2 separate regions of the Homo sapiens genome follow, and region 1 is linked to region 2. The links come from fine-mapping of genetic effects on gene expression. A gene starts in region 2. The other region holds a variant in brackets. All regions are shown on one strand. Distances are between the middles of the regions.

What was found.
Region 1: its variant is fine-mapped to the expression of VPS53 in whole blood (TOPMed, PIP above 0.99).

The regions. Positions count from the first base shown.
Region 1 is chr17:525,873-530,872 of GRCh38, reverse strand. The region is part of intron 19 of VPS53 (VPS53 subunit of GARP complex); the gene reads left to right. All of the region lies in intron 1 of VPS53-AS1 (VPS53 antisense RNA 1), which reads right to left. Among named protein-coding and RNA genes, the nearest start is that of VPS53-AS1, 5.6 kb to the right of the region's middle. The variant G/A (reference allele first, on the strand shown) is at 2,332.
Region 2 is chr17:712,806-717,805 of GRCh38, reverse strand. It overlaps VPS53 (VPS53 subunit of GARP complex), which reads left to right and starts at 2,967. Exons shown (of 22, transcript NM_001128159.3): 1 at 2,967-3,183. The coding sequence starts at 3,097. RefSeq lists an enhancer at 2,426-2,495.

The sequences.
Region 1 (5,000 bases), 190 kb after region 2:
TGAGTACTATATAAAGTGAGTTCTTTATCTTTGGGCCCCAGAGTCCTCGAGCAATTGCAAGGGCACGTGGAACTGACCCACACCAATATTGATCATGCTTCTTGCTAGTTTATGATCTTCAGATCATCCTGTTTTGCAGGGTCACTAATTATTCTTATGACTGCGTTCACCTATGAAAGCTTTTCTTTCCCTTGAGATTAAGGATAAGAGGAGAATGTCCGCTGTCACCATTTCTATCCCACGTTGTTGTTGAAGTCCTGGCTAGGACAACAAGGCAAAAAATACAATATTTTTAAAAGAAACAAAATATATACAGATTAGAAAGGAGGAAACTAAGCTGTCATTTTTCATGGAAAATATGATTATGAGTAATAAATCTAAAAGGATCTACAGATAAACTGTTAGAATATAAATTTAGCAGGCCGGGTGCAGTGGCTTACACCCTTAATCCCAACACTTTGGGAGGCCGAGGCGGGCGGATCACAAGGTCAAGAGTTAAAGACCAGCCTGACCAACACAGTGAAACCCCCGTCTCTACTAAAAATACAAAAATTAGCTGGGCAAGGTGTGGTGCGCCTGTAATCCCAGCTGCTCGAGAGGCTGAGGCAGGAGAATTGCTTGAACCTGGGAGAACTGCTTGAACCTGGGAGGTTGCAGTGAGCTGAGATTGCGCCACTGCACTCCAGCCTGAGTGATAGAGACTCCGTCTCAAAAAAAAAAAAAAAAAAAGAATATAAATTTAGCAAGGTTGCTGGCTATAAGGAAAGTGTTTTAAAATATATTTCTATATACCAGCAGCAAACAATTTAAAAATGAACATTTTTGAGTGAAATACTTTTTTTTTTTGCTGTATTGCCCAGGCTGGAGTGAGTACAGTGGCACAATCATAGCTCACTGCAGTCTCAATTCGTGGGCTCAAGCCATCCTCCTGCCTCAACTTCTCAAGTATCTGGGACTACAGGAATGTACTACCATGCCTGGCTGGCTCTTTTTTTTTTTTTTTGGTAGATATAGGGTCTGCCTCCCTGTGTCTCCCAGGCTGGTCTCAAACTCCACCCTCCTCAGCCTCCCAAAGTGGTGCGATTACAGGCGTGAGCCATGGCTCCCAGGCCTAAATGAAATCATTTACAATAACATCAGGAAACATTAAATACCTAGGAGTAAATTAAAAATGTACAAGTCTTCTACACAGAAAACTGTACAATATTAAGACACAGAATCCATAAAGACCTTTAAAATGACAGGATAGCTCATGTTCATTGATAAGAAAGACTCAAAAAGAAATACATATGGAGTCTTTCTGAGCCTGCTCTGGCTGAGGAGGCTGCCCAATAAAAAATAAATAACAATTTAAAAAGCGGCAAATTATTCCAAAATTAATCTATAGATAGAATTCAATCCTAATTACTGTATCAATTTATCTATAGATACAGTAGAATCCCAGCAGGGGTGTGTGTGTGTGTGTGTGTGTGTGAGTGTGTGTGTGTGAATTGATATGCTGATTTTAAAAGTTAGATGAAAATACAGAAGACAACAGCCAAAATAATCTTAGAACAGAATTGGAGGAGTTAAAGCTCAGGATATCAAGACTTATTGCAGCAGTATTGTAATTAGAGCAGTGTGGCACTGGCCCCAGGGACAAAGAGGCCAACAGAACAGATCTGAGCTGAGGGATAGACCCACACATGTGTAGATACTTGATTTATGACCAAAGTGGCATCATTCAAAGAGAGTCTTTTCAGTAAATAGTGCTGGGTAATTGGATATCCATATCGGAAAAAAATCTTGACCTTTGCCACACACCATATATAAAAATCAATTCCAAAGAGGATTTGGTGAAATTAGAACACTCATACATTGCTGGTGGTAATGCAAAACGGTACAGCCATTTTGGAAAACAGTTTGGCATTTACATAGAGTTACCACAGGGCCCAGCAATTATACTCCTAGATATATACCCAAATGAATTGAAAAAGGCAGGGTGCATGGTTCACACCTGTAATCCCAGCACTTTGGGAGGCTGAGGCAGGCAGATCACCTGAGGTCAGGAGTTCGAGACCAGCCTGGCCAACATGGTGAAAACCCACTTCTACTAAAAATACAAAAATTAGCTGTACATGGTGGTGTGCACCTGTAACTCCAGCTACTCGGGAAGCTGAGGCAGGAGAATCACTTGAACCTGGGAGGCAGAGATTGCAGTGAGCCAAGATTGCGCCACTGTACCTTCAGGCTGGGTGACAGGGTGAGACTCTGTCTCAAAAAAAAAAAAAAAAAAAAGAATTGAAAAAAAAATGTGTTCACACAAAAGCTTGTACACAAATATTCATAGCA[G/A]CACCATTTATAATAGCCAGAAAGTAGAAACAACTCAAATGTCCATCAGCTGATGATAAACAAAATGTGGTCTATCCATACAAGGGAATATTACTCAGCCATTAAAAGGAATAAAGTACCCATTCATGCTACAACATGGAAGAGCCTTGAAACCATGTTAAGTGAAAGAAGCCAGACACAAAAAGCCACCTATTGTGTGACTCTGCTTCTGTGAAATGTCCAGAACAGGCAAATCCGTAAAACAGAAAGTGGATTAATGGTTGGCAAAGGCTGAGGGAGGGGGAGATGGGAATGGCTGCTAATGGGTAAGGGTTTCTTTCTGGGGTGATAATGTGTTCTGAAACCAGATAATGCTGACAGCTGTACAACCTTGTGAATAGACCTTAAAAACCACTGAATTGTACACTTCCAAAAGGTAAATTTTATGGTTTTTGAATTATATCTCCATTTTTAGAAAATTAATCCCAGATGGATTATGGCTCTAAAAAATAAGGCAATAAAGCTTCTGGAAGATTTAATATAAGACAATATGTTTATGACCTTGGGTTAGGCAAAGATCCCTTAAACAAAACATTAAAAGCACTAACCATAAAAGAAAAGATTGGTTATTTTGAGTACTTAAAAGACTTTGGCCAAGTGCGATGGCTTGTGCCTGTAATCCTAGCACTCTGGGAGGCTGTGGCAGGAAGACTGCTTGAGCTCAGCAGTTTGAGATCAGCCTGGGCAACACAGCGAGACCCCATCTCTACAAAACAATTTAAAAATTAGCCAAGTGTGGCACGTGCCTGTAGTCCTAGCCACTCGGGAAGCTGAGACAGGAGGATCAGTTGAGCCAAGGAGTTCAAGGTTGCAGTGAGCTATGATTGCACCACTGCATTCCAGCCCAGGTGACAGAGTAAGACCCTGTCTCTAATCATAATAATAATTTAAAAGAGTGATGATACCAAGTGTTGGTAAGGATGTGGAGCATCTGGAACTTTCATATGTGCTGGTAGAAATGGAAGTTAGCCCAGCCACATTGGAAAACTCCTAGGCAGTTAGCCAAACATATGCCTACCCCATGATCCAGCAGTTCTACTCTTGAGTAGCTTCCACCCTAGAGAAATGAGGACTTTATGACCACCAAAGGCATGCGCACGAATGTTCACAGCAGGTTTATGAGCAGGAAACAAGCTACAGTGAGAGAGAGCAGGAGAGACGAATGTTCACAGCAAGTTTATGAAGCAGGCAACTAGCTACAGTGAGAGAGAGTAGGAGAGACGAATGTTCAGAGCAGGTTTATGAGCAGGCAACTAGCTACAGTGAGAGACAGCAGGAGAGTTTGTTGAGAGGGAAAGGAGAGCATTGACTGGACGAGAGCATGAGGAAGGCTTCAGGGATGCCAGAAGTGTGCTCTGTCTTCCGTTAGGCAGCAGGATGTGCACATGTCTGGATGTTGATCAAATGGCATACGTGGTGTTTGTGTACTCTGTGAAAGTTATACCTAATTTTTTTAAAAAGAAAAAGAAATAGAACATGTGTCCACCTTGTTCCATCCCTCCTGATAGCCTGAGCTGTCTCCCCTGTGCCACCTCATTGAAGAATTTTCTATGGTGGGACCAATATGGTTCACCTATGTGGTTTTGTTCACATGGTTCTTTGTCTTCTAGGAGTGTGGGCCTGTATCTTATTTACGCAAAATTTTCATCACTGTTGATAGTCATCATGTCCCCAAGAATTGTAGGAGGCTCCTCGGGAAGTAAAGGGCCCCTCTCAAAGATTTCCATTGCTGGGTGATCAGCCTTCACAGGCATGGCATACTGGCCACCCTTGCACCCCCACATCCCATCAACAACATTAGCCAGCCCACACTGCCCCAGAAATTATCGCTGAGGCAGAAATGAATGTGGCAATAGCCACCCCTTGCCCAATGTCTCATGCCTAAGAAGATGAATTATCAACTATTTCAAAGTTGAAAACTAGCAGATTTTCATGATAAATGGGACCTTTCTGTCTTGTCTTTGCACAGACAGCCGCCAAATCTGTCAGGCTCATTCCCGCCTTTTCTGACTGCCTTGCTTTATGTATAAAACCTGAGACCAGGGTTTTCACCTCTCAGTGTCTGGTAAAGACAGAATTTTATGGTGACTGGCCAGGGAATGAAAGTGTCATATCTCCCTGTATATGAGGGACACTAGAGAATTATGCCTGGTGCATTCAAACCCTTCCTGTCATTTAAGACTGTACAATTATTTATGCATATAATGTATCTCTGGGAAGTAGAAAAGTAGGAAATATCTCCATATGCTTTAAAATATAATGACTGATTTTTTTTTTCCTACCAACAAATGAATGCTAAGACATGGCTTTGATTTTGACAAGGCTCTCAAAATTTGCTACATGGAAGACAGAGTTGAGTCCTGAATGGTAGTCTTTAAACAAAAATTCCAGTTAATTAATGTACAGAAAATAATGTAAAAAACAGTAACTAACTACTCAGCTCAGCAAAATATGTAACATGTTTCCACATTTACTTTACATCTTTTTTTTTTTTTTTTTTTTTTTTGAGAAAATGTCTCACCGTGTTGCCCAGTCTGGAGTACAATGGCGCGATCTCGGCTCACTGCAACCTTCACCTCCCGAGTTCAAGCAATTCTCCTGCCTCAGCCTCCCGAGTAGCTGGGATTACA
Region 2 (5,000 bases):
GCAGCTTTATTCATAATTGCCAAAAACTGGAAAAACCCATATGTCCTTCAACCAGGGACTAGATAAACAAATAGTGGTGTATTCATCTAGTGGAATACCAGCAAGAAGACATGAACCACAGATACATGCAACAACATGGATGAATTTTAGATACTTTATGACAGATGAAAGAAGCCAGACTGAAAAGGTGTCATACTGTATGATTCCATCTATATGATATTCTGGAAATATCAAAACTATAGGGACAGGCCAGGCGTGGTGGCTCATGCCTGTAACCCCAGCACTTTGGGAGCCTGATGCTGGCAGATCACCTGAGGTCAGGAGTTTGAGACCATCCTGGGCAACATGATGAAACCCTGTCTCTACTAAAAATACAAAAATTAGCCAGGTGTGGTGGCACGTGCCTGTCATCCCAGCTACTCAGGAGGCTGAGGCAGGAGAATCGCTTGAACCCGGGAGGCGGAGGTTGCAGTGAGCTGAGATTGCACCACTGCACTCCAGCCTGGGTGATAGAGCGAGACTCCGTCTCAAAAAAACAAAAACAAAAACAAAAACTATAGGGACAGAAATCAAGTCAGTGGTTGCCAGTGGATGGGGTGAGGCAAGAGGGAATTTGGGGGAATGAAATTGTCCTATAACTAGATTGTGGTAGTAGTTACATGGTTATATACATTTATTTATTTTGTTTTATTATTGTTTTCTTATTATTTGTTTGTTTGTTTTGAGATGGAGTCTTGCTCTGTCACCCAGGCTGGAGTGCAATGGTGCAATCTTGGCTCACTGCAACCTCCACCTCTCGGGTTCAAGTGATTCTGTGCACCACCACGGCCAGCTACGTTTTGTATTTTTAGTAGATAGAGACGGGTTTTACCATGTTGGCCAGGCTGGTCTCGAACCCCTGACCTCAAGTGATCTGGCAGCCTCGGCCTCCCCACGTGCTGGGATTATAGGCGTGAGTCACCATGCCCAGTCGTTTATACACATTTATCAAAACTCACTGCATCATAAATTGCAAGAGTAAATTTTACTGTATGTAAATATCTTAATTTTTTAAAGGAAAAAAAAAGTCCAAAATAAGTAGCTATAATTACCTTTTCCTTTTAGAAAAAGGCATTCATATTTTCTGAGCATGAGAGAACTACAGGCTCATTGTAGACATTTGGGAAAATGTACAAAGGATGTACATTCATCACGTGCAGAAAAGTAATATTTCCTTGCTGTGAGCTTTATTGGCACAGAATACACACAAAGCTGGGACCATGCTATGCATTTTTTAAATGAAATTATACATTTTGCTTTCTGAAATATATTGTGCATATTTTTCATGTCATTAATTTTCAAAATCATGATTTTATGAATCAATAATATTCTATGTTTACTTAAGAGACAGAGTCTCCCTTTGTGGCCCAGGCTGGAGTGCAGTGGCGCAAAGGAATCATTCCTCACTGCAGCCTCAAACTCCTGGGCTCAAGCGATCCTCAGTGGTGGGATGAGATCTAGACCCCTGATATTCAATCTCAGAAAGTCAATAATTCCCTGCCTCAGCCTCCTGAGTAGCTGGGGCTGCAGGCCTGTGCCACTGCACCAGGTTCAATGTATATTTTATTTTGTCTTTTTTTTCTTTTTTTAATGTATATTTTTTAGCATTCCTTTGTTGTTAGAAATTACATTGTTTATATAATTATTATTTGTCAATTAAAAATAAAAGAAAAAATCATACTGCTCCTATTTTTTACTTTGAGCAACTCTGATAACAACAACAAAAAAAAGTTCAGTGGGGCCAACGCGTTTCCCTCCTGGAGTTTCCCGGTTCACCTGGTGGAGCGGGTCCTCCTTGGGCTGCAATTCCCTCCTTCTTTTCAGTGTCTGCAGGAAAGGTGGTTTCACAGGGTGATCGGTGATCTGGCTTATTTGTTCCTTTGTGGGGGTAAGGGCTGGGCACCTCACTATTTCCTGTATTACCAGCTTGAATTTACATCGCGCTGTTAATGTTTAATCCTCTCCACATCGACGCGGGGTAGTAATTTGTTCCAAGTCACACAACTTATCAATGGTGGACTATTCAGGACTTAGATCCCGGATATTCAACCTCAGTAAACGTCTCCCCAGCTCCAGGGCGCTGCGTCATCTGGCTTTAAAAAAACGTTTCTGGCCGGGCGCAGTAGCTCACGCCTGTCATCCCAGCACTTTGGGAGGCCGAGGCGGGCGGATCACGAGGTCAAGAGTTCGAGACCAGCCTGGCCAACATGGTGAAACCTCGTCTCCACTAAAAATACAAAAATTAGCTGGGCGTGGTGGCGGGCGCCTGTAATCCCAGCTACTCGGGAGGCTGAGACAGGAGAATCGCTTGAACCCAGCAGGCGGGGTTGCAGTGAGCCGAGATCGCGCCGTTGCACTCCAGCCTGGGCAACAAGTAAGACTCCGTCTCAAAAAAAAAAAAAAAAAAAAAAAAGACGTTTCTCCCCATAAGGAGGCTGCAGTCACCTCGAAAAGCTTCTGCGCAGAGCCCGGCGCACGGGGAATTTCTATCGAGTGGGCACTGTCCCGTCCTACGAATGTCCTTGGCGACATCGCCACTCGCCAGCTGGGATCACGTCGCCCCCGTGGCCGGGGACACCCGCTGCCACTGACCGAGGGGGCCCCGGGAGCTGAGAGGTCGCCGCTGCGCTGCCCGCGGAGGCTGTGGGCTGCGGTTGGCGACGCCGCAGGGCTGACTTTCATCCGGGCGTCCTGCTGGAGGCCAGACCCTACCCCAACCTCGGGGTCCTCAGTGCGGGGCGCGCCTTGGGGAGGGAAGAGGCCCCGCCCATCCTAAGGACGCGCTGAGGCCACGCGGGGCCGCCGGGATACTGCGTTGCCCGGGAGACACCTGACGTGACAGGAACGCCGCCAGTCTCAGTCCGCCGTGATCCCACAGTTCCCCGGTCCCGGAAGTGCCCTGGCCTGCCGGAAGTGCCGGAGCGGCTGACAGAGCGGCTGACGGAGCCGGGCTCACCAGGTCGCTGCCGCGAGGGAGTTGCTGTGCTGGGGCCTGGGTGGCGGCTGGAGGCCTGAGTTGGGCTCGCGGCGGGGGTCGGCAGGGGGCCGGGTGGCGGAATGATGGAGGAGGAGGAACTGGAGTTCGTGGAGGAGCTGGAAGCCGTGCTGCAGCTCACGCCCGAGGTGCAGCTGGCCATCGAGCAGGTAAGCGTTCCGCCCCTCAGGAGGGGAAACGGGAGTGCGGGAGGGGAGACGGCAGCTCCGGGCGCTGGGGAGGCCGCGGCGGGTGGACGGAGGGCCGGGGGCTCGCGGCAGAAGGGAAAGTGGAGGTGGGGAGGTGGTGCGGGTGAGAAGCGGTTTCTGAATCAGAAGGAAAGGAAAGAGAACCCTTTCTAGGCTTTGATTGTCTTTGGCGAGGGCTGGGGGTTCTGGTGGTTTTGGGGAAAGGAATTGTGCGCTTAGAGAGGACGACGCTAGGAGAATGCAGGCCTTGGGTGCCATCCTCAGATTCTGGGGACTGTGGGGGCTTCATGCATTTACCAGACTCGTGCCAACGCCCCGGTTTTGCAAGCTGGCACCTCGTGAGTGGCTTGGAACTGGGGGAAGGGAATGACTTTAATTTCTGAAGCGGACGGCAGAGAAGAGAGAAAGTGTTGAAAAATGACATCGTTACCATTCTTAAAAGGTTGAGAATTCCTACCGTTGAATAGTTTGGGTGAGGTTGGAGAATACTCCCAAGGGGCCTCTTTTCCCTTCAGGAACTTTTTTTTTTTTTTTTTTTTGAGACGGATTCTCGCTCTGTCGCCCGGGCTGGAGTGCAACGGCACGATCTCGGCTCACTGCGACCTCCGCCTCCCGAGTTCAAGCGATTCTCCTGTCTCAGCCTCCTGAGTAGCTGTGATTACAGGCGCACGCCACCACACCCGGCTAATTTTTTTTTTTTTTTGGGGTAAAGACGGGGGTTTCACCGTTTTGGCCAGGATGGTCTCGAACTCCTGAGCTCAAGTAACCCGCCCGCCTTGGCCTCCCAAAGTGCTGGGATTACAGGCGTGAGCCACCACGCGCGGCCCTGCCTGCAGGAACTCTTGCCTTTGCAAGTTTATTGAGTTTTTAAGGCTAATGATATTAGAAATAGTGATTTTTTTCTTTTCTTTTTTTCTTTTTTTTTGTTTTCTGAGACGGAGTCTCGCTCTTTCGCCCAGGTTGGAGTGTAGGGGTGCCATCTCGGCTCACTGCAACCTCCGCTTCCAGGTTCAAGTGATTCTCCTGCCTCAGCCTCCTGAGTAGCTGGGACTACAGGCAACCGCTACCATGCCTAGCTAATTTTTGTATTTTTAGTAGAGACCGGGTTTCACCATGTTGGCCAGGCTGGTCTTGAACTCCTGACCTCAGGCTATCCGCCCGCCTCGGCCTCCCAAAGTGCTGGGATTACAGGTGTGAGCCACTGCACCCGGTCAGAAATAGTGATTTCTAATACTGCAGGGTATTGCTCCTGATAAACGGAGAAAATCTCCCTTAAAGGAATTGTCATGAAGTTATATGATTTAAGAAAGGGATTTATGATTGAGGAAATGGACAATTCCATTATGCCTTATTTAATGACCCCTGGGAAACTTTTTTTTTTTGAGATAGGGTCTTGCTCTGTTGTCCAGGCTGGAGTACAGTGGCATAATCGTAGCTCACTGCAGCCTCGAACTCCTGGGGCTCAAGTGATAACCCTGCCTCAGCCTCCCGAGTAGCTGGGACTACAGGTGCATTCATTGACGCTTCGATGTGTGTTTTTCCAGTAGTGGTTGGATTACTTATACAACCAACTTTGTCCTAGCCTGAGAACGCCAAACCATTGGGCAGGAAGCTTTTAGTGTTCCGGCCACACGGCTCCACCACTTACCTCCTTTTGCCAGAAAAAGACATAACATTTCTGTTGCTCTTTGGACTAGTGGGCTCTCATGGAAGAAAAGAATAATGCAGTCAGTTACTGTTTGGTTGACAGGTATCAGAAAAGCACATTTTTGCTATTT